2 separate regions of the Homo sapiens genome follow, and region 1 is linked to region 2. The links come from fine-mapping of genetic effects on gene expression. A gene starts in region 2. The other region holds a variant in brackets. All regions are shown on one strand. Distances are between the middles of the regions. Region 1 has its middle 37 kb from the start of NTAQ1. Region 2 holds the start of NTAQ1 (N-terminal glutamine amidase 1).

What was found. PIP is the estimated chance that this variant, and not a neighbour inherited with it, causes the effect. A credible set is the group of variants that fine-mapping cannot tell apart.
Region 1: its variant is the best candidate, but not a certain one, in a credible set for the expression of NTAQ1 in whole blood (INTERVAL, PIP 0.72).

The regions. Positions count from the first base shown.
Region 1 is chr8:123,445,760-123,461,931 of GRCh38, reverse strand. It overlaps a transcript of NTAQ1 not described here and the pseudogene LOC124902105. Among named protein-coding and RNA genes, the nearest start is that of NTAQ1, 37 kb to the right of the region's middle. The variant T/C (reference allele first, on the strand shown) is at 5,701.
Region 2 is chr8:123,409,767-123,425,938 of GRCh38, reverse strand. It overlaps NTAQ1 (N-terminal glutamine amidase 1), which reads right to left and starts at 9,165. Exons shown (of 6, transcript NM_018024.3): 1 at 9,007-9,165. The coding sequence starts at 9,089. It also overlaps a transcript of ATAD2 not described here. RefSeq lists silencers at 8,427-8,476, 8,797-8,996, 9,107-9,586, 11,504-11,704 and enhancers at 8,399-8,993, 14,618-15,118, 15,119-15,619.

The DNA of each region.
Region 1 (16,172 bases), 36 kb before region 2:
CCGTGGGCCTCCTGGGCTTTTGCCTGTGACACTCTAGCCATAGCCTCCTCCAAAGCAAGTCACTCTTGTGCCCCATGTCAAGAAGGAGCACAAGAGTCTCTCTCCTCTGCCCCAATTTCATGCTCCCATCTCCTCTTCCCCTCACATACTTCCTCTTGCTCTATCTCCTTTCCTTTCAATAAATCCTTATTAAGCATCTACTCGCTGAAAGACACAGTTCCTGCTGTTCTTGAATATACAAAGTTATCAAGGTCATAGTTCTGCTTTTTATGAGTTTATGGTCTAATAGGCCAGACTCCTGCAGGAAAGCCCAACATGTGAAAGGACCTAGGGTGTCATTATAGCAGATACTAAGCATGGTAGAGCAGAAGACAACACCAGGCTGGGGCTAAGGAAAGCTGGGCTAAAGTCCTAGATTTGTTACATACTGGATATGTGAGCTTGAGCAAGTGAAATAACCTCTCGGGGTGTAGATATTATCATCTGGAAACTGCATTGGGTTGAGTTTCCCCAATGCATGCCTTGAGACAGGAAATTCGGTAGAAGTTGTTTATTTGGTAGGTGATCCTAGGAAACACCAGTAGGGAGTGGGGACGTGAGTCAAGGAACAAGGAAGCCAGCCAGGTCACTGAGCAGGTGCCAAGAGGATAGGCTGTTGTGGGCAGCTGGGGACCAAGGCTGCTGGGGACCCTGGGAGATGGTGCAGCGTCTAGCCCAGAGTTGTACCCTCCAAGGAGCAAGAAAGCTAAGCCACTTATCCACCTACTCCCACCCATCAGGGCTGAAGGCTGCTCCAGAATGTATTAACTCCATGCTTCCCGCCTGCCCAAGCCAGGACCAAGTGTGTTAGGTCACTTAGGCAAGGAATAGTAAGGAGGGTGCCTATGGAAAGCAGGGATTGACAGCATCCATACACCACCTGCAAACACTGTACGGAGGAATACATGAAAGAAAGATTCCAAAAGCTCAGAGCAGAGTACCTGACAGAAGTGTGAAATGTGCCTGAATGTAGAAGTCAGACGGCACGCCTCCTCAACTCATCTCTGGATGCTGGCGCATGTTATTATTCTCTCCTTGCTTCCTTTGCAACGTTCAGCCAATACAAACTCCACTACGTCGTCAAACCAAACCTACCAAGTCCATTCTTCCCTCATTTCACTCCCAACCCCCTGCCACTGCATGCAGGTCTCCCCCAGCTGGTCTCCACTGACCCTTCTGCCAGCCCAAACCTGTCCACCACAGCCAAAGGACACTGCAAAACGCTGGTCTTCTCACATCTGATGTTGAAGAGCTTACCCTGACCGCTTTTTTCCTACAAGATTCAGCCCTACATCACATCTTGTGGTTCAAGGCTGTCCAGTAGTAAAGACATCCCGTGTGCCACAGACAGCCCACTCCATCTTTTCCCCTTGGCTCTCACCTCTGCAATATGCCCCTCCTTAGACCCAAGACCAGCACAAGAAGCAATGCCCTCATTTTGCCTTTGGATTTATTCCAGTGTGACTGAATCTCCACTTTATGGTGTAGTGATTCTGGAGTCAGGCCCAGGTTCAAATCACATTCCTTTACATATTAACTGTGCTACTTTGGGCAAGTTGCCCACTCCCATTTCTTCATCTGAAAAATAAGGATAATAATCATTCCTACTTCATAAGGTTATTGTAAGGACTAATAATTTCATGCCCAATAAGTAGTTTTGAGCAGTGCCTGGCACAAAATGAGTACTCCATACATATTATCTGTCATTAGGGGTTCTCTCAAGGTACTATTTAAGATTTTTTTTTTAAAGAAATCAAGAGATATCTGCTGTGAAATAAAAATCACGTACATTGGGCTGGGCGCAGTGGCTCATGCCTGTAATCCCAGCCCTTTGGGGGGCCGAGGCAGGCGGATTACCTGAGGTTGGGAGTTCGAGACCAGACTGATCAACATGGAGAAACCCCGTCTCCACTAAAAATACAAAATTACCCAGGCATGGTGGCGCATTCCTGTAATCCCAGCTACTTGGGAGGCTGAGGCAGGAGAATCGCTTGAACCAGGAGGCGGAGGTTGCGGTGAGCTGAGATCGTGCCATTGCACTCCAGCCTGGGCAATGAGTGAAACTCCATCTCAAAAAAAAAAAAAAAAAAAAGAATGATGTATATTGGTCTCCACCCCAAGTTCCTGGCACAGAGCTTCGAAAACCCTTGTGATTTCCTGAGCAATAGGGGTTCTAGGAGAAACTTTTGTTGGAATTATTGGGTCTCTGCCCCAGGTACCTGAGACAGAGCTCTTAAACCTTTGATTTCCTGAGTAATAGGAACACCTGACTTAGAGTTCCTGAATCCCTTGGAATTTTTCTGAGGAACATCTTTTTTTCTAATAAGGGGACTCTTGGTGAGCTCCTGGACAGGGGCTGCTCACTGGAAAGACTAAGCAATGATTAGAAGCTTGGAGCTTTCAGCCCCATCCTCCATTCTTTAGAGATGGGGAAGGGCTAGAGACTGAATTAATCTTCCATCATGCCTACCTGATGAAGCCGAAGTACTGAACTATGGGGTTCAGAGAGCTTCCGGATAGCAGAACACGTCCATGTGCTGGGAGGGTGGTGCACCCCAACTCCATGGGGACAGAAGCTCCTGCACTCAGGACCCTTCCACACCTGATCTCTTCATCTGGCTGTTCATCTACATCTTTTTTTTTTTTTGAGACAGGATCTCACTCTGTCACCTAGGCTGGAGTGCAGTGGCATAATCACGGCTCACTGCAGCCTCGACGTCCTGGGCTCAAACAGATCCTCCCACCTCCTGAGTAGCTGAGACTACAGGCACACACCACCACATCTGGCTAATTTTTTCATTTTATTTTATTTATTTGAGACGGAGTCTCACTCTGTTGCCAGGCTGGAGTGCAGTGGCACGATCTCGGCTCACTGCAACCTCCGCCCCCTGGGTTCAAGCAATTCTTTTGCCTCAGCCTCCGGAGTAACTGGGACTGCAGGCATGCCACCATGCCCAGTTAATTTTTTTGTATTTTTAATAGAGGTGGCTCACGCGTGTAATCCCAGCACTTTGGGAGGCCGAGGCGGGTGGATCACGAGGTCAGGAGATCGAGACCATCCTAGCTATCACGGTGAAACCCCATCTCTACTAAAAATACAAAAAATTAGCCGGGCGTGCTGGCGGGCGCCTGTAGTCCCAGCTACTCGGGAGGCTGAGGCAGGAGAATGGTGTGACCCAGGAGGCGGAGCTTGCAGTGAGCCGAGATCGCGCCGTTGCACTCCAGCCTGGGCAACAGAACGAGACTCCGATTCAAAAAAAAAAAAAGAAAGAAAGTACCAACTATTTTTCCTGTCTCACACATCTGCTAAAAAGGTTTTCTCTCTTCGCATGAGCTCATGGGCTTTCTGAGCATTTCTGTACCCAGATCGCAGCTTAATGCCATATATGCCACAGAAACACACCCCTGACCAGCACACAGACAGCTACTTAGCTGTTTAATGGTTTCACCTAGACTCACAATTTCAAGGTCTCACTTTCACTCACAGCAGCCCAATCAAAGGGTTAGAATTGGTAAACAAACAGGCTCGGAGCGGTATAACAGAAAAATAATTTCTTTTGGCTTTTCTTGCTCTTGGTCAATGAAACTTTGATCAGAGAGAACATCTGAGGCTATACTTGTTTCAAGTTGTGTTTGTTTGAAAAAAAAAAAAAAGTTAGCCAGGCACAGTGGCTCATGCCTGTAGTCCCAGCACTTTGGGAGGCCAAGGTGGGAGGATTGCTTGAGTCCAGGAGTTCCAGACCAGCCTGGGCAACATAGCAAGACCTTGTCTCTACAAAAAAAAAAAAAAAAACAGTGAGGGGAAGTGTGATTTATTTGTTTTTTTTTTTTATTTTAAATCTTTTTTTTTTTTTTTTTTGAGACAGAGTCTTGCTCTGTAGCCCACGTTGGAGTGCAGTGGCATGATCTTGGCTCACTGCAACCTCCACCTCCCGGGTTCAAGCGATTTTCCTGTCTCAGCCTCCCGAGTAGCTGTGACTACAGGCACATGACACCACGCCCAGCTAAATTTTGTGTTTTTAGCAGAGATGCAGTTTCACCATATTGGTCAGGCTGGTCTTGAACTCCTGACCTCAGGTGATCCATCCGCCTCGGCCTCCCAAAGTGCTGGGATTACAGGCGTGAGCCACTGCGCCCAGTCAATTCTACCCTTAATAAGTAATATATTCACAGGGCTTACAACACTTAAAAACACAAAAGGGTACACAATGAAGTTTCCCTCCCTCCCGTGACCCTAGCCACCCAGTTCTCTTCTCAGAAGCAACCAATATTACCAATTTGGTACTGGATACTGGATATTCCTATAGATATTCTGTACAAATATAAGCAAATACACGTTTTTATCTTTTAGTACAGATTTCCACTTGCTCTTTAAATTTAATTGTATTACATATATAATATAGGTTTATTACATATTTAATATAGGTTTAATTTGAAAGTAAAGGCAAAAACTGCAATTACTTTTGCACCAACTAATACATACAAAAGAATATTTATATCATGTTTAAGATTTTTTTTTTAATTTTGGCTGGGTGCAGTGGCTTATGCCTGTAATCCTAGCACTTTGGGAGGCCGAGGCAGGCGGATCACTTGAAGTCAGGAGTTTCAGACCAGCCTCGTCAACATGGGGAAACCCCGTCTCTACTAAAAATACAAAAATTAGCTGGGCATGGTGGTTCACAGTTGTAATCCCAGCTACTTGGTAGGCTGAGGCAGGAGAATTGCTTGAACCAGGGAGGCAGAGGTTGCGGTGAGCCGAGATTGTGCCACTGTACTCCAGCCTAGGTGACAGAGGGAGACTCTGTCTCAAAAATATATATATCTATATGTATAGATAGATTTTTTAAAAAATTTTAAGCCATCACTCAGCTTAAGAAACATAAACATTTCATCAGCCCCCAGTTGATAAGCCTACAGATGGTTTCCAACTTCCTGTTGTTATGCCCACAGCTACAATGAGTTTCCTCGTGTATCCACCATTTTATATGCGTGCAGTATATATCTGTAAGATAAATTCCTAGATGACGAATTCCTAAGTCAAAGGGGATGGTCACAGGTCATTTCTATAGATAAATATCTGGATTGTCCTCCACAGAAATTGAAAAAAATTGATTCGTTTGTTTCTGAAAGTTTCCAAGATGCCTAGAAGTCTAACAGGTGTAAAAATCATTTAAGTGACAGAAGACAGGAAAGCAAAAGGATCTCATTTAAGTGACAGTTCTTGTTAAAAATATATAAAGCATAACTATCTCTTGTTTCCCCTGAGGCAATCATGTAAAACAACTCCTGACGGTGCCTTCGATACTTGGGGAAGTGCCCAAACATATACTTTATTCTGGTGTAATTCCTGTAAGGATTAATATTGCTCAGAACTGACAGGAATTATTAGTTCCCGCAATGAGGTAATTACAGAATCAAGTTCAGCCACACTTTTTTGACTTTGTTTACTTTAAAATGCCTGCTGCCTTAGATATTTAAGATGTGCATCTTGGGTTCCAAGTTTCGAAACAAAAATCCCTGCAGAGGCGGAGGCTGCAGTGAGCCAAGATCGTGCACACCAGCCTGAGCGACAGAGCAAGACTCTGTCTCAAAATAACAACAACAACAAAAATCCTTGCAATATATAAGTTCTCTCAATATTCAAAAGCATAAGGAACAAGC[T/C]GGATGATCATTAACAAAGGGTTTATCCAGAAATACAACAACCGTCAGATTATAGGAACCTCTGCAATGCAATGTCATGACCACTGGGGTTTGGCATTGGAGATGCAAGAACCTAAATATCACCCTTTTTGGGGAGGGCCACTAACTTGAGCCCTGTCATAAGGATCAGACCTAAAAAGATGCTCTTAAAATCCAGAGATTGGAGAAAGTCAATATTCCCCCACCTGACCAGATGCCTAAATCAAGAGTATTAGCACATTTTACAACCAAACATGAATGGGCTGAGATACAGTTCCTGACCTCTCTTGCCACTTTCTGTAATTAGCCACACCAGCCACCACTTTGGAAAGGTGCTAAAGTTTACCCACTTACTAAAAACAGCCTAATTACACTTAAAATTAGCAATATACCTAAATCCATATTTCATGATACATGGTCCCAGAACACCTGCAGTAGACTTCCGGGTGGGGAAGTGGGAGTGAGTCTGGCTATTAAAATGCTGATTTCGGCTGGGCGCGGTGGCTCATGCCTGTAATCTCAGCACTTTAGGAGGCCAAGGAGGGTGGATTGCCTGAGCTCAGGGGTTCCAGACCAGCCTGGGCAACATGGTGAAACGCTGTTTCTACTAAAATTACAAAAATTAGCCAGGCGTGGTGGCACACGCCTGTAGTCTCAGCTACTCAGGAAGCTGAGGCAGAGAATCGCTTGAACCCAGGAGGCGACGGTTGTAATGAGCCAAGATTGCACCACTGCACTCCAGCCAGGCGAGAGTGGGAGACTCCGTCTCAAAAAAAAAAAAAAAAAAAAAAATTTCTGGGCATGGGGTTTGAGGATATTGGTAACACAAGTGGTTGCTCACTACAGGTCCTCGCTGGAAACAGCACTAAAGAACCAGGATGTGGACTGACTCCTCTGTGCAAGTCACCGACAGTGCCCATGTTTATACTGTAGGCCCACGAACCAAGCAGCCATGGCGGCAGGGACGGAGGTGTGCATGGACTCAATCACCATCTTTCCCTCACCAGAGCTGACTCAGCTGCCTTCTCTGCTGAAGCCCTAAGTGGAGACCAAGGCTGAGCTATGGCATCTTAATTATGAGGCATCCCTTCCAAAAGGGAAGACAGAGCTTTGCGTGTGGCAGTATCATAGCCAATGAGGTTTATCCGAGGCGTGATTATTGCTAATTGAAAACAAAATGGAAGACAGGTGACTTTTCCCCTCCCTTGAATAAACACTTCTTCCACACATGGATTTCCTTTTCCTAATCACCATGCTTCTGCCAGCAACTTACCAACTCAATGAATGCCTCATCCACTGCCACAACGCCAGACACCCACATTGCTTCTGATCACAAATCCATTCACAGCAAAAGAAATGGGTCCATATGCTGGTACCCCCCAGATGCTCTGATCTTACCGTGGTCCCCAGGGGTAGGTGATCTTCTTGATGGTAGAATGAATGGCCCATTGGAGACTGAGCTACAGTATCCGCTGGCAGACACCACCTGGTGACACTGGGGTTCTGTCCCATAAGATGTAGTAGATGCTCTGAACCAGTGACAGTACTGCCAGAGTTCACAGGTCTGGGCACCAAGGCTAGAAGTGAGTGCATCTCCGACTGCTACACCTGAGGTCAGGCGTTTGAGACCAGCCCGACCAACATGGAGAAACCCCGTCTTTACTAAAAATACAAAAAAATTAGCCAGGCATAGTGGCGCATGCCTGTAATCCCAGCTACTCGGGAGGCTGGGGCAGGAGAATTGCTTGAACCTGGGAGGTGGAGTTGTGGTGAGCTGAGATCGCACCATTGCACTCCAGCCTGGGCAACCACAGTGAAACTCCCTCTCAAAAAAAACAAAACAAAACAAAACAAAAAACAAAATTGCATCCATTTATTATCAAGGGAGCAATTATAGCAGAACTTCACTATGAATGACTGTTTCTCTAGATGTTTGTTTCCCGTCTCCATCACTTTGAATCAAATGCCTTTTGGATTCACGTAGCAAGCAATTTCTGTTCTCTGCCGCTGAGACCTGACTGGGATGCTTACTAAACCAGAACCACTCAGGGAGGTTCTGGACATTTGCCTTTTTAACAAGTTTGACATTTATTGATAAAGTTTATTTGCAGTAACTACAGGGTAAGTTACTTCAGGTGGACAGCTGTGAAGGACACTTCATCCCGACCATGGGGAAGCTCAGTGACCCACTCCTGCCCTACAACAGACAGCACCTTGCTAGTGACCCATTATCTGATTACAGAATGTGGGCATGAACTTGGAACTGGGTGAACTGGGAATTGGATGGCAGCCAGGCCCTGGAGTGGGAATGCCTAGATTCAAATCCTGTCTCCACCACTCACTAGCTATGTGGCTTTCTATAAGTCACTTTACTTTACTGTGCCTACGTTTCCTAATTTGTAACATGAGGAGAATAATGGTATCTACCTTATATTGTTGTTTTGAGGATTGAGTTCATACACATGAAGAGCTTAGATGAGCTATCTGGGGCCAGGCACGATGACTCACACCTGTAATCCCAGCACTTTGGGAGGCCAAAGCAGGCAGATCACCTGAGGTCAGGAATTCGAGAGCAGCCTGGCCAACATGGTGAACCCGTCTCTACTAAAAATATAAAATTAGCCAGGCATGGTGGCAGGTGTCTATAGTCCCAGCTACTCAGGAGGCTGAGGCAGGAAAATCACTTGAACCTGAGAGGCAGAGGTTGCAGTGAGCTGAGATCGTGCCACTGCACTCCAGCCTAGGTGACAAGAGCAAAACTCTGTTCCAAAAAAGAAAAAAAAAAAAAGCAACAAAACACTTCACCTTTCGGTGTATGAAATATTCTCTTCCCTGCCAACACACACACAATCTCATTTGAGCCTCAAAATAATTCTTAGGTGAGGCAAGGAAGGCCCAGAGAGGTTAAGTGACTTTCCCAAGGTCACACAGTATGTCACTAGCAAATGCAAAACTGTAACGGGGGCCAAGGACTTGAACTTATTTTTCCTGTATTCCAGGGGCAGGGACAAGATCTCCTCAGCATCTGGCCCCAAGGAGGTCAAACATAGCTCTGCATCCTGTGGGCCTTGAGTGGGAACTGATTCAACCGTCACTTACGGCTGCAGAAACAGCGTGTGCCAGAACGGTGTGACTGTATTAACATCTTGCCCCACAATTTCCTTCCAATGTTCTTCCCAGAAATTGCTCTAAAACTCCAGGTCCCCATGGAAACCTCAGGAGAGATTGCCTATTGACTCTAAGTGAAGTTCTGCTATGAGTGCTCCCTTGATAATAAATGGATGCAATTTTGTTTTTTGTTTTGTTTTGTTTTGTTTTTTTTGAGAGGGAGTTTCGCTCTGGTTGCCCAGGCTGGAGTGCAATGGTGCGATCTCCACCTCCCGGGTTCAAGCAATTCTCCTGCCTCAGCCTCCCGAGTAGCTGGGATTACAGGCATGCGCCACTATGCCTGGCTATTTTTTTTTTTGTATTTTTAGTAAAGACGGGGTTTCTCCATGTTGGTCGGGCTGGTCTCAAATGCCTGACCTCAGGTGATCCGCCCGCCTAGGCCTCCCAAAGTGTTGGGATTACAGGCATGAGCCACCGTGCCCAGCCTTTTAAAATTTTATTTTTGTGTGTGGAGACCGAGTCTTGCTGTCACCCAGGCTGGAGTGCAATGGCTCGATCTTAGCTCACTGCAACCTCTGCCTCCTGGGTTCAAGAGATCCTCCTGCCTCAGCCTCCCAAGTAGCTGGGATTACAGGCATCTGCCATCATGCCCAGCTAATTTTCATATTTTTAGTAGAGACAGGGTTTCATCATGTTGGCCAGGCTGGTCTTGAACTCCTGACCTTAAGTGATCCACCGGCGTTGGCCTCCCAAAGTGCTAGGATTACAGGTGTGAGCCACTGTGCCTGACCAATAAATGGATGTTATTAAAAGCCTGGCCTGAACAGATACCTGCTGTAAAGCTCAGGGCCAAAGCCACATTCTCCCTGGACTGCCAGGGTAAAAGACATAGTTCATTCTCTGGTGCTAGGCTGAGTGGTCAGCTTGGAGCAAAGGGGAAAAGTATACTGTGAGCTCCTGCTCTCAATATCAGACACTAGACATGGTGCTTTCCATATCTGCGTTTGTGACAAGAGGCTGGAATGAGGTGCCTGCCAAGAATGTGAGAGAACTAATTAAATAAATCCATGGTGTTCTTTGCTCTCTGCAAAAGTCATTCATAACGTGCTTTTCACACCAAAAGGTGGAAGAGTAGGGCTTGGAGTTAAGGCTGAAGGGACTGCAGACAAAACCGGTTTGAAAAAGGACAAGATCATCTAAAAAAGGAATAGAATCTAGTCAACGGGAATAATTCAAAGCACAAGACTTTAGCAGCAGTTTTCTAGCATTATCCTGAGATCCAGTGGAGTGGCGGACTTGATGTTCCAGACCCCTTTGGTGACAGGAGTTGTTCCTTTATTGAATGCTTGAGGAATATTTGTTGAGTGCTTACTATAAGGTATCAGATACCAAGACACTGTATTACAGTGGAGAATAAGGCAGGGAGGACTCACAGTCCAATGGAGGGAGATAGAAAACAGACTTTTAGACCAGGTGTGGTGGCTCGTGCCTGTAATCCCAGCATTTTGGGAGGCTGAAGTGGGCGGACCAATTGAAGTCAAGAGTTCGAGACCAGACTGGCCAACATGATGAAACTCTGTCTCTAATAAAAATACAAAAATTAGCCAGGTGTGGTGGCACATGCCTATAATCCCAGCTACTTGGGAGGCTGAGGCAGGAGAATCCCTTGAATCCAGGAGGCGGAGGCTGCAGTTAGTCAAGATCACGCCACTGCACCCCAGCCTGGGTGACCGAGTGAGACTCCATCTTAATTTAAAAAAAAGGAAAACAGACTTTTAAACAAATAAGTGTGCAAGATCATTTCAGTTAGTGATAACTGCTATGAAGAAAAAAGGGTACTGTCATGTTGACTGGGGCAGTCAGCTCTAGATACGTCACCAGGGAAGAATTACCAGACTCGGAGCTCAGACCTCAATGTCAGGCAGTGTCAGCCAACAGAAGATAAGGGAGAAAAAAAGGGTCAGATCAGGGTAAACAGAATGTGAGGTCCCTGAGGAAGGAATGAGCTTGTCCTGCTCACCAAAAGAAACCTAACGGGGGAAGCAGGACAGGGAATGGGCCAGCAGTAGCAGAGCTGAAATCACAGAGACAGCCGTAATCCAGACCACACAGGGCCTGAGAGCCAGGGTAGAACAGTATATTTAGCTTAAGGACATGCTGAGGCCATTGCAAAGTGGTGGTGGTTTGTTGTTGTTTGAAAACGGGAATGAGATAGTCTGGTTTTTAACAGATCACTCTGTATGAAGGAGACATGAAGCAGAAAGAAAAAATAAAGATCACTTTGGCTGCTTTGTGAAGAAAACACTGCAAAGTGGGAAGAGGTCAAGGAAAAAAAGCAAAGAGTTATTGGAGTGGTGCCTGAGGCTTCCCCATGACCTGGATGAAATATCCCTGAAAGTTATCCAGCTTTCTTTCCTCTCTGTCAATGCTGAAGAAGGGCTGCATGAACCAAGGGATGGATCGAGTCAAAGGGAGCGTCCTACAGAGTGAGAACTGAGGAGTGTTTGCCCTGCTTCAGAGACAGTGGCCCTGGAGGACAGACAGGTTTTGATGTCATGAGAGGTCTCCTTGGAGGGGCAGAAATGGGTAATTCGTTCTTCAAAATGGAAGAATCAGCTGACAACCTGGCAAACAGCAGTCTCCCCTGCTGACCCACATCCTCCTGCAGTACCACCCCCTTTCTCTGCCCCCTTCCCAAACCACTCTACTTCCTTCCTCCTGTTCCCTCCTGAACCTACTGAAATTAGGCTGTCATCCCCATCACTCCACTGAAATTGCCCACAGACCTCCACAGTGCCAAAACCAACGGTCATCCCAGTCCTCAACTTACTCAACTGATCAGCAACATCTGACAGAGCTGATCCCTCTCCCCTTCTAATACCACTTTCTCCTTTGGGCATCCTTGTTTTCTCCTCCTTCCTCCATGACCATTCCATCTGTCTTCCCATCTCCTAAGCCCTAAATAAAAGCTCCCTAGGCTAGGTCCCTGGACCTTTCCTCTATCCACACACATTCTCTCAATGATATCATAGAGGCCTGTATCTTTAAATGTCATCTATTAACAGATGTCTCCCAATTTGATATTCCTATCCTACATCTCTCCACTTGACTCTGGGACCCCTTTATCCAGCATATATATATATATATATATATATGCACACACACACACACACACATATATATATACACACACATATATACATATGGAGAGATAGAGAGAGAGAGAGAGAGAGAGAGAGAGAGAGAAAGCAGCGAGCCAGAGTCTCACTCTGTCGCCCAGGCTGGAGTGCAGTGATGTGATCTCAGGCTCACTACAACCTCCGCCTACCACACCCGGCTACCAACTCCTATTTGACAGCTCCTGTTAGACATCCAACTGGCACCTCAAATTTAACATGCCCCCAGTAAAACTCCTGATCTTCCTCCCCAAAATTACTCCACCCACAATCTTCCCCAACTCAGTAAATAGCAACCAATCTTCCACACATTGTAGAAGTTCATTGTCTGTCTTCTCCACAAGAATGTAATATCCATGAGCGCAGGACTCACTGCTGAATCACCAGGGCAGTGATACAGCAACAGTAGAGGTCTTGAACTCCTGGCCTCAAGTGATCTGCCCACTTCAGCCTCCCAAAGTGCTGGGATTATAGGCATGAGCCACCACACGCAGCCCTCCAGCTCTTTTAAATAAGCATCCTCCATGAAGAATTTCTGCAAATCATCAAGCTGTTAATTGCTATATGCTGAATGTACACAAGCCCCTACCAGTCTGAGAGTCCTGTGTAAATCATTTTCTCTTTCAAATCCTGATGAAAAAGGGACTCAAAGAGAATCCAAACCACAGCCTGCAGGCTTCCTCATGCTTCTGCTTCACTACTGAGCCAGCCACTGGTCATGGTGTGTACTGCTGTCAACCACCAAAATACCAGACTCAGTCAGAACACTGCTGTCCACTGTTCTACGGAAAATCAGCAGCTACCTCCAAGGCTCCCACAGAGCCACATGGGGCCCCCAGTGACACAGTTCTTTCTTTCCTTCCCAGGAGACAGGGCTTTCAAGAGAGTAAGAGAGTACAGGTAAGGGTGCACCGTGGCACATCTCTCATGGCACCTGCCATCAAGGAACACTCTAATGTATAATCATCTAGTCTGGTCCTCTCAGCCAGATGTCATCTTCACTTACATTGATTTTCTCTCAGGGACCTGTTCATGTTTTTCTCTCCTCTAGCAAAGACATCTTTGAGGACCTCTAGCCCACGGGACAAGCCTATAAACGTCTGAACCCTAAATGAGAACACAGACCATTTGGCTTCTTTCCCACAAGGCTCCTGAACCTCATGCAAAACAACAGGACTGGATAGACGTCTGTGTTCAGGGTTTGTGAACATTCTGGGAAGGGCAGTAATTCCACAAAAACTGTGGGACACTAAGGGGGCAGTCTGCGCAAGGACACAGAGGCTTACACCACAAATTCTTCTTATTCTTTTTCGACGGAGTCTCACTCTTGTCGCCCAGGCTGGAGTGCAGTGGTGCAATCTTGGCTCACTGCAACCTCCACCTCCCGGGTTCAAGCAATATCTCAAGTGATACTCAAGCCTCCCGAGTAACTGGGATTACAGGCATGCGCCACCATACCTGGCTAATTTTTGTATTTTGGGGAGAGATGGGGTTTCACCCTGTTGGCCAGGCTGGTCTCGAACTCCTGACCTCAAGTGATCCACCCGCCTTGGCCTTCCAAAGTGCTGGGATTACAGGCGTGAGCCACCGTACCCGGCCTGGAACACCACAAATTCTTATTTCTGACCCAGCTAAAAATATCGTTACATGCTTGAATGGGCACTGAATTATTTAGGGAGGACTAAATGGCCAAATCAAAACTCACCAAGAATTCTGTGACTTAAAAAATACATAAGTTTGTCTCCTATGAAAGAGTTCCACAATATACTATTTAGGCAGGCATGCAACTCGGCTCCATAGAGTTATCAGGAATCCAGGCTGATGGTGGCTCTTCTGCCTTTGATAAGTAGCTTCCGAGGTCACTCCAGTCATCACCATTTCATCTGGTAAGAAAGTAGGCAAAGGTGTGAAGGAGTGGGCACGAGTTTCACAGGTCAGTCATGTAAGTGGCACACACACTTCCTCTTATATTCAGCTGGTCACATGGCCACACTGGCTGCAAAGGAGAATGGGAAATGTAGTCCATGGCAGAGCAGCCACACACCAGTCACAGCTCTGTTGCTGTAGAACAAGGGACAGCAAACTACAGCCCAAGGGCCAAATCTACCAGCTCTTGGTTTTGCAGAGTTGTTTTTTGTTTTTTGTTATTTTTTTCTGCCATATACAAACATATTTTTATATGAAATTATATAAAATACAGAAAGAGGCACAATGAATGTATGCAGTTAGAAAGCAGGATGGTGGTTACCCTTAGCGAGTAAGGAGGTGATCAGAAAGCAGCAGGAAGCTTCTCAGGTGCTTTTTTTCCTTAATTTGAATCCTGGCTCTACTACTTACTGGCTAGTGACTTGGTGAGCTATATGAAAACCTCTCTCTGCATCAGTTTCCTCATCTGTAAAATAGGGATTAAAAATAGTGCCAACCCCATCAGATTGTCAGAAAATTGCCTGGCATACAATGACTTCTAGATAATACACAATGAGCTCTATTAGTTAGTTTCTCTAGACAGTTATATTCTTAAAACCAGGGTGATTATCAAAAAGGACATTAGATTTATCCATCACATTGTGTATTTTTTAAAAAAGAACACGTTCATATATTAATTATAAATAAAAGTTAACCTTGTAATATGAACATTAAGCAAAAGACAAGCACTGCTCTTTAGTTGTATGTGCATCTGAGCCTAAGATTAGGTTTTATTATAAATATGTAAGTATAATTTTTTTTAATAGTAAGCAACTCAAGCCTAGCAAAAATACTACTTCTATTGCTACTCAGTGAAAAAGCATATTTATATATTTAAAAAGTACAAGGACACCTAGACAGAAAAGTAAACTTAGAATGAGGTTTCTGATAATGAAGGTTATTGTTCTTCCTCTCTATAGATAGACAGACAGAATATTCAAGCAGACAATGAACAGGGCACAGATGATAACAGAACCCTGACCCCCAGCTCGGCGGCAATCAGCATGGAGAGATCAGGACGTGGTCAAAACTTGCAGGCTTCCCCCATGTTGTTGTTGTTCTTACTTTCAACATGGAACCAGACAGAGAAAACCAAACATACTCCTCCAACCAATCACTTAGGATGTCCAGCTTCTAGTTGGAAAAAGAAATCCATGTTTTTCCTTAACTTCCTAAGTTCATAGTTGGAGCAGAGTCTGTTGCGGAGGCTGTAAGTCCAAGATCAGGGCTGAGCAGATTATGTTGTCTGGTGAGGACTTGGTCTCTGCTTTGAAGATGGCACTGATACGGCTCCGATGAGTGGAGGAGCACCAGGGCTCGTCTTGCGCGAATTGGATAAAACAACACAGACACAGTTGGAGTGGTTTTAAGGAGCAGAGTGTTTAAAAGGCAAGAAAGAAGAGAGAAGAAAGAAGGAAAAAGCTCTCCAGAGGGAGGAGGGCTCCAAAGACAAGAAAGGAGACCCAGGTTTTGCAAAGTTTTATTGGAGCTCAGCCACACCTATTCATTTACATATTGTCTGTGGCTGCTGTTTTCGGCTACAAAGGCAGAGTTGAGTAGTTGTGGCAGAGGCCTTATGGCCTGCAAAGTCTAACATTTACTGTTTGGCCATTTACAGAAAACATTTGCCAACTCCTGCTCTAGAAAAAGAAGAGAATGGGCCAGTTGCAGTGGCTGATGCCTGTAATCCCAGCACTTTGGGAGGCTGAGGTGGGGGGAATCACTTGAGGCCAGAGTTTGAGACCAGCCTGGCCAACATGGTGAACCTCTGTCTCTACTATAATAAAAACACACACACACACAAAATTAGCCAGGTGTGGTAGCGCACCTGTAATCCCAGCTACTCAGGAGGCTGAGGCACGAGAATCGCTTGAACCTGGGAGGCGGAGGTTGCAGTGAGCTGAGATCGTGCCATTGCACTCCAGTCTGGGTGACAGAGTGAGACTCTGTCTGGAAAAAAAGAAAGGAAAGGAAAGGAAAAAGGAAAAAGGAAAAGGAAAGAAAAGAGAATGGATTTGGTGGGACAACCAGCAGCCTATGGTTTCAAAATTCATCTTGGGGGTGGGTGAGGTGGCTCACGCCTGTAATCCCAGCACTTTGGGAGGCTGAGGCAGGCGGATCTCTTGAGGCCAGGAGTTCGAGACCAGCCTGGCCAACATGGTGAAACCCTGTCTCTATTAAAAATACAAAAATTAGCCAAGTGTG
Region 2 (16,172 bases):
GATTCTCCTGCCTCAGCCTCCCAAGTAGCTGGGACTACAGATGCATGCCACCACTTCTGGCTAATTTTTGTATTTGTAGTAGAGATGGGGTTTCACATGTTGGCCATCACATGTTGGCCATGGCTGGTCTTGAACTCCTGACCTCAGGTGATCCACCTGCCTCGGCCTCCCAAAATACTGGGATTACAGGTGTGAGCCACCACGCCCGGCCCAAAGCCTAATTTCATCCACGCCATGCTACCTAAAAATGAAGCAAGGCATGAACAGCCCTGAGGATGGTCACCATCTTACAGAAGTAGACACTCTTTCAGTTCATCAATCTTTGCCTTGCCTGTCTCAAATGCTCTATAAAACTAGGCTTAAAATACGGAAGTTGGACATGTTTTTCTCCCATGGTTTTCCTTTTCTCTAAAATAACTAGGAAACTACAAGGGAAAAGTGATGGTTGTGGTTAAAAAAAAAAAAAAGTGGGGGGGTGGGAAGATTGCTACTGCTACTGACTACTTCATATGATATGTACTATAGAGTAATAAAAATTTACTGACTGGGCCGGGCATGGTGGCTTACGTCTGTAATCCCAGCACTTTGGGAGGCTGAGGCACGTGGATCACCTGAGGTCAGGAGTTTGAGACCAGTCTGGCCAATATGGTGAAACTCTGTCTCTACTAAAAATACAAAAATTAGCTGGGCGTGGTGGCTGATGCCTGTAATCCCAGCTACTCGGGAGGCTGAGGCAGGAGAATCGCTTGAAACCAGGAGGCGGAGGTTGCAGTGAGCCAAGATTGTGTCACTGCACTCCAGCCTGGGCGACAGAGAGAGACAACCTCTAAAAAAAAAAATTTTATTGACTGTTTCAACATGACATATGGTATATGTCATATTACGTCACAATAAAATTTCCTTAATCTAAATGTTCTAAGGCCAGGTTTGAAGAAGACAATTATCTCTCTGGCTTATACAAGTTTTTCGGGAGTTTACCGCAAATACCTTCAAGAGCTTATAATGTACAAAATACTGTGCTAAGTGCTTGGAGGATATGATGATAAATTAGAGCTTACAGACCATGAGCAGAGACATACAAATCCATAACTGGCAAGCATCATAGAAGGCCATAAAAGATGCATGCAGAAAGGAAGAGGGTGTCATTAATTCGGAGGGATATGGGAAGAGGTATAGGTTGTAGTTTCTCTTTGTTCATTCCCCTCTAAGGGTGGGCTTAGAGTTAATACAAAGGGGCCAGGCGAGGTGGTTCATGCCTGTAATCCAGGCACTTTGGGAGGCCAAGGCAGGCGGATCACCTGAGGTCAGAAGTTTAAGACCTTGGATCACCTGAGGTTGGGAGTTCAAGACCAGCCTGGCCAACATGACGAAACCCTATTAAAAATACAAAAATTAATGGCCAGGCGCAGCAGCTCACGCCTGTAATCCCAGCACTCTGGGAGGCCGAAGCGGGTGGATCATGAGGTCAGGCGTTCAAGACCAGCCTGGCCAACATAGTGAAACCCCGTCTCTACTAAAAATACAAAAAATTAGATGGGTGTGGTGGCAGGCACCTGTAATCCCAGCTACTCAGGAGGCTGAGGCAGGAGAATTGCTTGAACCTGGGAGGCGGCGGTTGCAGCAAGCTGAGATCGTGCTACTGCACTCCAGCCCAGGCAACAGTGCAAGACTTCGTCTTAAAAAAAAAAAAATACAAAAATTAGCTAGGCGTGGTGGCACAAACCTGTAATCCCAGCTACTTGGGAGGCTGAGGCATGAGAATCACTTGAGCCCGGGAGGCACAGGTTGCAGTGAGCCAAGATCGCACCACTGCACTCCAGCCTGGGTGACAGAGTGAGACTTCATCTCAAAAAAAAAAAAAAAAAACGCATAAAAATAAAAACACAAAATCAGCCGGGCGTAGGAGCATGCACCTATAATCCCAGTTACTCAGGAGGCTGAGGCACAAGACTCACTTGAACCCGAGAGGCAGAGGTTGTAATAAGCCAAGATTGCACGACTGCTCCTCCAGCCTGGGTGACAGAGCAAGACTCCATCTAAAAATTAAAAATAATAATAATAATAATAAAAACTACAAAGAGTTCATGAATCCACAGATACCACAAGCACCACTGGTAAGCTGAATACATAATGTGGCTTGAACATACACTGTTATTTTTGAAATATATGTAAATGTTACACAGAAAAAAATGTAAACTTCGTAAAAGTCACTGACTTTTTAGTCCCTTTTAGTCAGCAATTGTTTTTCAAGAGCATAACGAATATCATGTAGGAGAATCCCATGAAAGTTTCAATGTTAAAAAAAAGGGGGAGATGATCTTATACTCGGAAATACAAGGAGTCACAGCTGAAACAAAAATACCTGTAGGTGGGGTGCAGTAGCTCACAACTGTAATCCCAATGCCTCGGCTGAGGTGGGAGGATAACTTGAGCTCAGGAGTTTGAAACCAGCCTAGGCAATGTAGCAAGACCCTCCGGAAAGAAAAAGAAAGAAAGAAAGAAAAAGAGAAACAGAAGAGAAGGAAAAGGAGGGAAAGGAAGGAAAAGGAGGGAAAGGGAGGAAAAGGAGGGAAAGGAAGGAAAGGAGGGAAAGGAAGGAAAAGAAAGACAAAGAAAGAAAAAAGAAGAGAAGAGAAAACAAAAGAAGAGAAGGAAGGAAAGAGAGAGACAGAAAGAAAGGAGGGAAGGAGGGAGGGAAGGAGGGAGAGAGGGAAGGAAGGAAGGGAGGGAGGGAAAGGAAGGAAGAGCAAGCGAGTTGTGGAAGAATTAGAAGAAACTATTCTAAAACTCATATGCACCAAAAAAGAGCCCAAACAGCCAAAACAATCCTAAGCAAAAAGAACAAAGCTGTAGGCGTCACACTACCCAACTTCAAATTATACTAGAAGGCTATAGTAACCAAAACAGCATGGTACTGGTACAAAAACAGACACACGGACCAATGGAACAGGTTAGAGAACCCAGAAATAAAGCCGCATATTTACATTTACAACCATCTGATCTTCAACAAAGTCCAATAACAAGCAATGGGGAAAGGATTCCCTATTTAATAAATGATGCTGGGATAGCTGGCTAACCATATGCAGAAGATTGAAACTTGACCCCTCCCTTTCACCATATACAAAAATCAACTCAAGATGGATTAAAGACTTAAATGTAATACCTAAAACTATAAAACCCTAGAAGAAAACCTAGGAAATACCACTCCAGACATAGGCCCTGGCAAAGATTTCATGATGAAGACTCCAAAAGCAACGGCAACAAAAACAAAAATTGACAAGTGAGACCTAATTAAACTAAAGAGCTCTGCACAGCAAAAAAAAAAAAAAAAACTATCAATGGAGTAAATAGACAACCTACAGCCAGGCATGGTGAGGCTCGTGCTTGTAATCCCAGCACTTTGGGAAACCCAGGCAGGAAGATCACTTGAGCCCAAGAGTTCAAGATGAGCCTGGGCAACATAGAGAGACCCTGTCTCCACAAAAAGTAAAAAAAATTAACCAGGCATGCTGGCACACATCTCTAATTTCAGTTGCTTGGGAGGCTGACGTGAGAGGATTACTTGAGCCTGGGAGGTCAAGTCTGCAATGAGCTATAATTGTGCCACTGCACTCCAGCCTGGGTGACAGAGTGAGACCCTGTCTCAAAAAAAAAAACCCAAAACAAAAAACAGACTACCTACAGAATGCAAGAAAATATTTGCAAACTATGCATCTGATAAAGTCTAATATCCAGAATCTATAAGGAACTTAAATAAACAAGCAAAAAACAACCCCATTAAAAAATAGGCCAAGGACATGAACAGATACTTCTTCTCAAAAGCAGATAGGCACAGTGGCTCACATCTATAATCTCAGCACTTTGGGAGGCCAAGGCGCGTGGATCACTTGAGGTCAGGAGTTCAAGACCAGCCTGGCCAACATGGTGAAACATTGTCTCTATTAAAAATACAAAACTTAGGCTGGGCGCGGTGGCTCACGCCTGTAATCCCAGCACTTTGGGAGGCCGAGGCAGGCGGATCACGAGGTCAGGAGATCCAGACCACGGTGAAACCCTGTCTCTACTAAAAAAAAATACAAAAAATTAGCCGGGTGTGGTGGTGGACACCTGCAGCCCCAGCTACTCGGGAGGCTGAGGCAGGAGAATGGTGTGAACCCAGGAGACGGAGCTTGCAGTGAGCCAAGATCACGCCACTGCACTCCAGCCTGAGCAACAGAGCAAGACTCCGTCTCAAAAAAAAAAAAGAAAAGAAAAATACAAAACTTAGCTGGGCATGGTGGTGCACACCTGTAATCCCAGCTACTCTGGAGGCTCAGCTGGGAGCATCACTTGAACCTGGGAGGCAGAGGTTGCAGTGAGCCGAGATCGAGCCACTGCACTCCACCCTGGGCAACAGAGTAAGACTCCATCTCAAAAAAAAAAAAAAGGAAAAAGAGACATGCACATGGCCAATAAGCATATGAAGAAATGCTCAACAACACTAATCATTAGAGAAACGCAAATCAAAACCACAATGAGATACCATCTCACTCCAGTCAGAATGACTATTCTTAAAGTCAGGCCAGGTGCAGTAGCTCACATCTGTAATCCCAACAGTTCGGGAGGCCAAGGCAGGAAGACTGCTTGAGCCCAAAAGTTCAAGACCAGCCTGGGCAACATGGCACAACCCCACACTACAAAAAATATAAAAATTAGCTGGGCATGGTGGTGCACACCTGTAGCCCCAGTTACTCGGGAGACTGAAGTGGGAGAATTGATTGACACCAGGTCGAGGCTGCAGTGAGCCATGATTGCACCACTGCACTCCAGCCTGGGTGACAGAGTGAGATTCTGTCTCAAAAAAATGAATAAATAGGCCGGGTACGGCAGCTCATGCCTATAATCCCAGCACTTTGGGAGGCCGAGGCAGGCAGACCAAGAGGTCAAGAGATCAAGATAATCTTGGCCAACATGGTGAAACCCCGTCTCTACTAAAAATACACAAATTAGCTGGGCATGGTGGTGCATGCCTGTAGTCCCAGCTACTTAGGAGGCTGAAGCAGAACCGCTTGAACCCAGGAGGCGGAGGTTGCAGCGAGCCTAGATTGCACCACTGCACTCCAGCCTGGTGACAGAGTAAGAATCCGTCTTAAATAAATAAATAAATAAATAAAAATAAACAAATAAAAATAATTTAAGAAGTCAAAAAAGTGGTGATGCCCACCTGTACTCCCAGCTACTTAGGAAGCTGAGGTGAGAGGATCACTTAAGCCCAGGAAGTTGAGGTTGCAGTGAGTCATGATCATGCCACTGCACTGTAAGCCTAGGTGACAGAGTGAGACCCTGTCTCAAAAAAAAAAAAAAAAAAAGGCAAAAAATAACAGACGCTGGCAAGTTGGTGGAGAAAAGGGGATGCTTATACACTCCTGGTGGGAATGTAAATTAGTTAAGCCACTGTGGAAAGCAGTTTGGAGATTTTTCAAAGAACTTGAAACAGAACTATGATGCGACCTAGCAATCCCATTACTGTGTATATACCCAAAGGAATATAAATCCTACTATTAAGACACATGCACATATATGTTCATCACAGCACTATTCATGATAGCAAAGATGTAGAATCAACCTAGGCACCTATCAATGGTGAACTGGATCAAGAAAATGTGGTATATATCATCCACCATGGAATACTACACAGCAATGACAAAGAACAAAAATCATGTCATTTGCAGCAACATGGATGGAGCTGGAGGCCAATATCCCAAGTGAATTAACACAGGGACAGAAAAGCAAACACTGAATATTCTTGCGTATAAGTGGGAGCTAAACCTTGAGTACACATGGACACAAAAAAGGAAACAGTAGACATGGGGCCTACTTGAGGGTAGAGGGTGACAGGAGGGTGAGGATCAAAACTATCTATCTGGTAGTATGCTCACTATCTGGGTGACAAAATAATTTGTACACCAAACCCCCAACACATACACTTTACCCATGTAACAAACCTGCACATGTAACCCCAAATCTAAAATAAAAGTTGGAAGGGAAAAAAACTCAAACAAAATATGTGATTGGATAATATCTGAAATGTTCTTTAAACTCTAAACAAAAGCATAAGGGACTCAAAAAAGGGAGAGAGGGAGGGAGGGAAGAAAGGAATGAAGGAAGGAGGGAGGGAGGGAGGGAAGAAAGGAAGGAAGGAAGGGAGGGAGGGAGGGAGGGAGGGCTGTGGATTTGCCCCAAGCTGTCAGCTGATCATCTTGGCAGCAGAAAGGTTGGGACACTCCAGGGGTTCCCAGTGATGAGCTGAGGTCAGAGATGCATGCAGATGGGGAGGACCCCTGGCACAAAGCAGGCACTCCACAATTGTTTGAAAAACACAAAACAATTAAGTCAGAATCAGAAATGCTCTGCTGACGACACAGTCCCAAACAAATACTGGCTGCCACTATTATCATTAAGCAGGGTCTTGAAGCGTAAGTAACATCTGGAAGCTAACATGACGGAAGCTAACAGAAGTAGACAGGAGGCATTCATTTCAACTTAAAAAACCTGCAGGATGGCCGGGCACGGTGACTCACACCTGTAATCCCAGAATTTTGGGAGGCTGAGGCAGGTGGATCACCTGAGGTCAGGAGTTCAAGACCAGCCCAGCCAATGTGGTGAAACCCCGTCTCTACTAAAAATACGAAAATTAGCTGGGCATGGTGGTGGGTGCCTGTAGTCCCAGCTACTCAGGAGGCTGAGGCAGAAGAATGGCTTGAGCCTGGGAGGTGGAGGCTGCAGTGAGCCAAGATGGCATCATTGCACTCCAGCCTGGGCAACAGACTGAGACTCTGTCTCAAAAAAAAAAAAAAAAAAAAAAAAAAAAAAAAAAACCCCCAAAGCTGCAGGAGCCAAAGTAGTGTGGTGTCCCCACCTGATGTGTTCAGACAGGGTAGAGCACTGGTTCTCAGCAAGAGGCGATTTTGCCCCCCAACCCCTACAGGACACTTAGCAATGTCTGGAGACATTTTTGGTTGTCATAACTAGGGCTAGGGTGCTAACAGTATCTAGTGGGTAGAAGCCAGGGATGCTGCTACACGTCCTGCAATACACAGGACAGCCTCCATAGCAAGGAATTATCATGCTCAAAATGTCACTCAAGCCAAGATGGAGAAACTCTGTGGTAGAGTGGTCATCTCTTACCATTCTTCTACAAGACTGCTCTAACTCCAATACTCCAGTTGTACCAGCCTCCTCACTGTTCCTATCACACTCACAGCACCATTCCTTCTCAGAGCCTTTGTACCTGCTGTTCTCCCTGCTTAAACAACCATCCTCCAATAGTTGCAAAGCTCCCACCCTCTTTTTTCAGATCTCTTTTCAAATATCACCTTATCAACAATGTCTTCTCAAAATATCCTAATAGAAGATAAGTCACCATCCTTTATCTTATTTTTCTCATAGTATTTAACATCACCCAAACATGGTTTACTTGTTTTTTTGGCTTTTTATTTTTTTTTTTTTTTTGAGATGGAGTCTTGCTCTGTTGCCCAGGCAGGAAGGGGCAGTGGCATCAGCTCACTGGAACCTCCACCTCCCAGGTTCAAGCGATTTTCCTGCCTCAGCTTCCCGAGTAGCTGGGATTACAGGTGCACGCCACCACACCTGGCTAATTTTTGTATTTTTAGTAGAGGCAGGGTTTCTGCATGTCGGCCAGGCTGGTCTCAGACTCCTGGCCTCAAGAGATCCGCCCACCTCGGCCTCCCAAAGTGCTGGAATTACAGGCGTGAGCCATCGCACCGGGCCTTATCTGCTTTTCTCTCAAAATGAAAGAACCAAGGGATCCATGAGGGAATTTGTCGATTTTGTTCACTGCTATATCCCCAGTGCCCAGAAGTATGCCACATACTCCAAGTGCCTAATAAACATTTATTGAATGAATGAATAAAACAATGACTGGACATTAGGGAGGAGAACTAACGGGATTTAGAAGAGAGGCAGGACAGAAAAATAGTGCAGTAGTTAAGATGCATGAACTTCAGAATCACGAAGAGGTTCCAGTTTCAGCACCACCACTTGCTAGATGTGTGATTTGGGGGCACAGAACAGCCTCTCTGTGGCTCAGTCTTTTTATTAGTAAAATGAGGATAACGATAATAAAAGAAGGTACCTCCTGGACATCGATGGAAGCACCTGCCACTGAGCCTGACATGCAATCAGGGCCGAACAAATGTTAAGCTCTTGGTGGCATTGGTTTAGTGACCAGCAGAAGGGGGAGGAGTAGGTTTAGATAGCACTGAGGTTTCCTGTACAAGGACTAGAAGCTGGGGAAGAAGCCATTACTCAGGAAAGAGTAGGTATGAGGACTAAGGCAAGGGCGGTACTTCAGCTGCAGAGGTGGCCTAGGACAGGGGTGCACTGCGTGGATTCCGGGGCCAGACCCTGACTGTAAATCCCCACTCCTTCATTCACAAGCTACGTGGCCCTGCGCAAATTACTTGCAGCCCTCTGTGCTTCAGTGCTCTCATCTTTCAACTGGGGATAACAATACCTACCTCTTACGGTTATTGTGATGCTCAGTGATTTAGTTTACCTAAACCACCCAGAACAACGCGTGGCATATAGCAAGTGCTGTATGAAAAACTCTCCGTGCCTTCATTCTCTTACAAAATTAAAATGACCTTCACCTCAGTCTGAAACCCCACAGGCTTCAGCAGAGTAACCCCCAAAGATTTTCAGAGCTCCACCCTTCCTGGCCCCGAAGCAGAGATCTGCTGAGCAAATCCAACCGACAAGCGCCAGGCACAGGTAATGCACTATCGACCCTATGATTCCGGACGAATTCCCAACCCCATCCAATAGCCCACGCTCTACTCAAGAGACGAGAGCTGCCATTCCCGCTCCCTCCTCCCGCAAAACTGTAGAACCCGCCGGTAGAGGCCGGGAGCGCCCCCGAGGAGGGGCCGGGAAGAGGCGGGGCCCGGTTGCGACTCGCCGCCCGGGAGCCTGGGAGACCCAGAGGCTGCGCCCGCGCCCCCTCACCAGTAGCAGCTGCTGTAGACGCAGGCGTCCCGCGGGGGGCTGGCCGGCTGGTAGTGGACAGCAGCGGGGCCATTACCTTCCATGGCCGGCTAGCTGGGCCAGGGCCCGGGCCGGAGGAAGACCGACTGGACCAGACGTAGGAAAGGGCGGGCTTGTAGTGGCCCGCGTGGGTTCCCGGCGTGGGGTGGGCGGAGCCCGGGGGGAGAGGGCCGGGGCAGTTTCCGGGTGGTGGGGCCAGTAGCGCGGTGGGCGGGGCCAGGGCGGGACTAGCAGCACGAGTTCCCGGCGCGGGAAGCCCGGGACGAAGTAGGCGGAGCTCGGGGCAAGCGGCGCCAGTTCCTGGGAGGGTGGAGCCCAAGCGAAGTGGGCGGGTCCGGGGTGGGGTGAGTGGCGCGAACTCCCGGTGGGCGGAGCCCGGGACGAGGAGGACAGCGCGCTTCCGGGTAGGCGGAGCCCGGCTGGTGGGTGGGGCCCGGGATGGGGCGGGACTGGAGGACCGGGCTCTGGTGGGCGGAGTCAGGGGCGGGGCCCCGGTGAGCTTTGGGAGAAGAGGGGTCTCTGGCGGCGGCTTGGGGAGGAGCTAGGTTTGGGCTTGGAGTTGGGCCCTGAATGGCGCTTTGCTGTGAATCTCCGCGGGGAGGCTCTTCCAACCAGGGGCTGAGCTTCTGCGCTGTGGAGAAGCCAGGTGAGACACTGAAATAACAGAGGTTTGGGTGTGAAAATCCACGCTTCTGCACTCAGCCTGGAGTCTGCGGGAGCCCAGAGAAGAGGGGAGTGGAGGTTAATTCCAATATGACCGCATCGAGGACGCTTTCCGAAAGGGATAGCACCCCAAATCTCACTCTATTGTAACTTAATCTTTTAAATTGGAAGGCCTGTAGCTATTGGCTCGAAAAGATATATTAATTCCCTGATACAGTAAATTTGAAAAAAAAAAGTTTAAAGAGTCCATATGGTATCCTTTTTGTGTTAATCATATATTTTGTTCAATTACTGGCAGTCTGGAAGAAAAGACACCATATTGTTAAAATAGTGTTTAGGGCCGGGTGCGGTGGCTCACGCCTGTAATCCCAGCACTTTGGGAGACCGAGGCGGGTGGATCACGAGGTCAGGGGTTCGAGACGAGCCTGGCCAACATGGTGAAACTCCGTCTCTACTAAAAATACAAAAATTAGTTGGGCGTGGAGGCGCGCGCCTGTAATCCCAGATACTCGGGAGGCTGAGGCAAGAGAATCGCCTGAACCCGGGAGGCGGAGGTTGCAGTGAGCCGAGATGGTGCCATTGCACTCCAGCCTGGGCAACAGGGTGAGACTCCGTCTCAAAAAAAAAAAATAGTGTTTATCTCTGGTGAATGAATGATATTAATATCAGGGACTTTCAGTTTCAAGGTCTTTACACTTTACAGTCTTCTGAATTGTTTATATTTGCAATGAGCATAGCTAGCTAATCAGGGTACTTCCCATTATAAAAACTGAGATGTTTACATTGATTTTAGCCATCCACAGTTGGATTCTCCAATCTCTTCAGTCTCAAAGCTGATAAATCCTAAAGACTTGGAGCACAGTTCCTGTGTCAATTACCAATTTTATTGCCTCTCAGCTCCTAATACAAACTTCCACATAGCCTCTATGCTATATAACAACTCTGGTAAACATTTCTCCTTTAAAGTGAGTGGGAAACCCTATAAGCTAGAAGGGATTGGGGCCCTATCTTTAGCCTCCTCAAACAAAACAATTATCAGCCAATAATTTTGTATCCAGCGAAACTAAGCATCATATATTAAGGAAAGATACAGTCTTTTTCAGACAAATGGTGAGAGAATTTGCCACTACCAAGCCACCACTACAGGAACTGCTAAAAGGAGTTCTAAATCTTGAAACAAATCCTGGAAACACATCAAAACAGAACCTCGTTAAAGCATAAATCACACAGGACCTATACAACAAAAATACAATTTAAAAAACAACAAAAAAAAACAAGGTACACAGGCAACAAAGCACGATGAATGGAATGGTACCTCACAAGTCAATCCTAACATTGAATGTAAATGGTCTAAATGCTCCATTTAAAGTGAGTGGGACAGGTGTAGTGGTGAGAACATCCTTGTGGAGTCTGCCCCAGCCCCAGACTCAGAACATGGTCCCTTCCTAACCTTGCAGGTTTAGCCTGGCAATAACCTTTCTTCAGCCTCTTGACACAAAAACCAGGGTCCTCCCTAACCCTACCTTCTATACGGTAAGGTACTGAATAGAGTTTCCTTATGTGTTATCGTTATGCCTTTATCATAGTTAATAATAATTTTTTGGTGGGGGACAGGGTCTCCCTCTGTCACCCAGGCTGGAGTGCAGTGGTGCAATCATAGCTCACTACAGCCTCAAACTCCTGGGCTCAAGTGATCCTCCAGCCTCAGCCTCCTGAGTAGCTGAGACTGCAGGCACGCACCACCGTGCGCAGCTAACATAATTAATAGTTCTTTACATTTAACTTCCCTTGCTTGACCTACTGTGTAGTTTCTTATCCTGATTGGGCACAAACTACTTACTATAGGACTTTGAAGCTAGGCTGGGTAGGTTCTACAACTTGCCAGTTGGGTCACCTTGGGCAAAGTTACTTCACTCTTCTGTGTCTCACTTTCCTCATCTGTAAAATGAAGTTAAAGATAATGCTACTACCTCATAGGGTCATTATGAGGATTAGTTGAGTTTATGTATATAAAGTACTTAGAATAGTTGGTAGCATATAATATAAATGTTAGCAACTATGATTTTTTGTTAAAAAAATCTGATTTCATTATTTCCCGCATACCCTATACTTTTTTTTTTTTTTTTTTTTTTTTTTTTGAGATAAGAGTCTCACTCTGTCGCCCAGGCTGGAGTGCTGTGGTGCAATCTTGACTCACTGCAACCTCCGCCCCCACCACCCCAGCTAAATTGTGTATTTTCTTGTGGAGGTGAGGTTTCACCATGTTGGCCAGGCTGGTCTCAAATTCCTGACCTCAAGTGATCTGCCCGCCTCGGCCACCCTCCCCGCCGCCATACTCTTGTCACTGAGTGTCTTATTCTTCCTTTGATACCCCAAGCCTTTGCACAAGATGTATGTACACTCTGTCTGATGCATTCTTTCACATGCCTTATTTGCAGCTTTTCCCAGGAAGAGTTTATTGTTGGCTTCCATCTTCCTGGAGCTTTTTTTCCTGTTTTGTCACAACTTTTATTCATATGTCTTGAAAAGCAGTAGCATGCTCAGCAACTCAATCTGTCTCTACCTCTGCCATGAGCTCTTCCAGGGCATGGGTCTTGCCCTGAGAGGTAGAATAGTATAAATAGTGCTGTAGTCAGAAACACACTCAAATCTTATCTTGGCTACTTACTACCCTGAGTGACCTTGGATAAGTAACACTAGGATTTCTGAGCGTCAGTTTCTTTGCAAAATGAGGATAATAATAGTAGAGTGCTTATCTAATGGGTGCTGCAGTGAAAATTAAATAAACTAATCTCTGCAAAACACTTAGCATAGTGCCTGGCAGAACATAGGTACTGTCAAAAATAAACATAGCCGTTGACCATCAGTCAAAGCGATGAAAACAGATTTTATTCAGCAACTATTGACAGTAGGGGAAAGAGCTGAGCTCCATTCCAATTGTGCAGAGGTAATTTGGGCATTTGGAAAGAAGAATGAGGAAGCAGGGAGGAGTTGGGGGGGGGGGGGCGCTCATTAGAGCCAGGGAAGTGAAAATTACAAAGGGTTGGTCAGTGTAAATACCATTAGGCCAGTCGTGTCTGCTAGCTGGCAGTTATCTAAGTTAGGATTCTATCCTCCCACAGAGACTGGGAGTCAGAGGCCCTATCCTTCCTGATGATTACATTTCAAAGGAATGGCTCTCTAAGTCCTTGAGAAGGACTTCTGAGTTGTAAGTAATACATATTTACAATTCTAAGCCCTTTTAGTAAATGCTCTAAGAAAAGGAGGTCAGGGGCCTATCATCAGGTACTGGCAACAACAAATAGTAAATTTTCCTGGGAGCTTTGAGCTTTCTTAAGCAGGCATTTTAATGGGGGGTTTGGGGGAGAAGGCTGACATAGCCTTATACTGCTAGAAGCCATGCTAGAGTTTGGTCAAGTCTGTTAGTGCAGGGATTTGGAACCAAGTTGTGCTGAGAGTTCTGCAGTACTCAGTACCCTACGTAATAAACAACTACATAGGCCAGGTGTAGTGGCTCACCCCTGTAATCCTAGAACTTTGGGAGACCAAGGCGGGAGGATCGCTTGAGGTCAGTTTGAGACCAACCTAAGCAACACAGCAAGACCCTGTCTCTACAAAAAAAAAATTTTTTTTAATTAGCCAGGCATGGTGGTATCTGTAGTCCTAGGCACCCAGGAGGCTGAAGCAAAAGAATTGCTTGAGCCCAGGAGTTTGAGGCTGCAGTGAACTGTGATTACGCCACTGCACTCCAGCCTGGGCAACAGAGTGAGACCCTCATCTCTTAAAAAATAAATAAAATAACTTAAAAAAACTACATAATTTTGCAGTTATGATTATTATCACATAGCTCTGAGCAGGGTGTAAGCATTGTAGTTGGCATAAATCCTTGTTGAATTGATATTTTTATTAATTAAAATACAGGTGACATTGCTGTAACAAAGAAATCCAAAAATATTAGTGACTTAAATGAGATACAAATGCATCTCTCATTCCACAGCCTGAGCATATACATTCTAGAGCTGATATAGTGTCTCTGCAATATCTGTTACCCAGGCTCCTGATGTCTTATTGGGGGCCATATCTAGAGTGATGCCCTAGTTCGCGTGGCTGAAGATGGCTTGCCACCCTACCTGCTGATTGCATTCTGACTGGTAAGACCAGGGAAAAGGAGTAGTGGGAGGTTCAAGGACAAAATCTGCAGGTTATGCACATCACTCTGCTCACATTCCACTGACCAAAAGATGCTCACAGGATCACATCCAGGTGTAAAGGAGATCAGGAAACATACAGTTTATTCTGAGCAGTGCAGGTATTATTTGAGTGTCTCAAGCAAGAAGGGGAGAATGCATACTGAGAGATAGCCAGCAGTTTCTAATCTGCCATATTGTGCTTTTTTTTTTCTGTTTCTAAACTTTCTATTATAAGCAGGAATTACTTTTTATTTGTTTATTTATTTATTTATTTTTGCAGTTGCAAGATTTAATAGATTGAAATAGAGTGAAAACAGAGCTCCCATACAAAGGGAGGGGACCCAAAGGGGGTTGCCGTTGCCAGCTCAAATGCCTGGGTTTATATCCCGATCCTTGTCCCTCCCGCTGTGCTCTCAGGCAATAGATTGGCTATTTCTTTACCTCCTATTTTTTCCTAATTAGCATTTTAGTGAGCTCTCTGATTGGTTGGGTTTGAGCTAAGTTGCAAGCCCCGTGTTTAAAGGTGGATGCGGTCACCTTCCCAGCTAGGCTTACGGATTCTTAGTCGGCCTAGGAAATCCAGCTAGTCCTGTCTCTCAGTCCGCCCTCTCATCAGGAAAACCCAAGTGCTGTTGGGGAGGTTCGCCGACGACTGCTCTAACTGCTTCTTGCTGAATTGGGGCGTAGTAGGGGTTGTGCAGTTGAAATTTCCTGGGGAGGGGTGCCTTCGATGTCATTAACATCGGAGCATGGGCTAGCAGGCCAGTCCAGGGGTCCGCGGTAGATCTTAGTCATAGACTGCATCTGGGGCTGCATTTGAAGAATGATTTGTAGTTTTGCAGCTTTGATTCTGGAAGAGACAAACGCTTTGGAGGTCCCTTCAGGGTCTCCAAAATGTTACCAGGGGTCCTTGTTCACAAAGTTTCCAAGATGGTGGCAAGCCGCTTCCAAGATGGTGGCAAGCCTCCTGTTCTCTGACCTGGGGTTCTTGGCCTCATGGATTCCAAGGAATGGAATCTTGGGCCATGCGGTGAGTGTTATAGCTCCATTAGAAGCCGTGGGTCACGGAAGAGAACCGTGGAACCCAGTGACTAGTGTTCAGCTCGATTAGGATGAACCCGGGCACTTAGCCATGCAGGAACAATGGCAAGCCTTTAGCCCGATCCAGAGCGGCAATGGGCGCCTCGCTGGATCAGGAGCACAGCGGACACCCTGCCGGATCTGGAGGGATAGAAGTCAGTGGCGGGTCTGCCACGGCAGCAAACAGCAGTGGTGGACGGCGAGCGAAAGCTCAGCTTGAGCCGTAACAAGCATGGTCCAGAAGAGTGCAGTAGCAAGATTTAATAGAGTGAAATAGAGTGAAAACAGAGCTCCCATGCAAAGGGAGGGGACCCAAAGGGGGTTGCCCAGGAATTACTTTTTAGATTGAAAAAAATAGATCATAAAAAACATATAGGCTGGGCATGGTGGCTCACACCTGTAATCCCACACTTTGGGAGGCCAAGGCGGGTGGATCACTTGACGTCAGGAGTGTGAGACCAGCCTGACCAACATGGAGAAACCCCTGTCTCTACTAAAAATACAAAATTAGCCAGGTGTGATGGCGCATGCCCGTAATCCCAGCTACTCGGGAGGCTGAGGCAGGAGAATCGCTTGAACCTGGGAGGTGGAGGTTGCCGTGAGCTGAGAGTACACCATTGCACTCCAGCCTGGGCAACAAGAGCAAAATTCTGCTAATAAATAAATAAATAAATAAATAATATGATCCTACAATAGAAACTATAAAAACGGATATGGTTTCAGAAGAGTAGGAGATGGTTAGAACCAGATTCTGACCTACAAACTCCAATGATCTGGTTAAGGAAGAAATACGAAATGCTACTCAAAGAAACCTGTGTCCAGTGAAATTAAGATATTAATGGGCAGGTGTTTAGAAGAGAGATCAATAACAGAGGAAATTATAAGAAAGGCCACAGACATGTAAAAGGAGATCCAGGGAATCCACAGCACACAGTATATTGAGCTTTAATAACAAAAGGTTTTTTTTAAAGCTTTTTTTATTGGAAGGATGTGCTTTTAATGCTTTTTTTTTTTTTTTTTCCGAGATGGAGTCTCACTCTTGTCACACCCAGGCTGGAGTCTAGTGGTGCAATCTCGGCTCACTGCAACCTCCACCTCCCAGGTTCAAGCAGTTCTCCTGCCTCAGCCTCCCGAGTAGCTGGGACTACAGATGTGTGCCACGACACCCGGCTAATTTTTGTATTTTTAGTACAA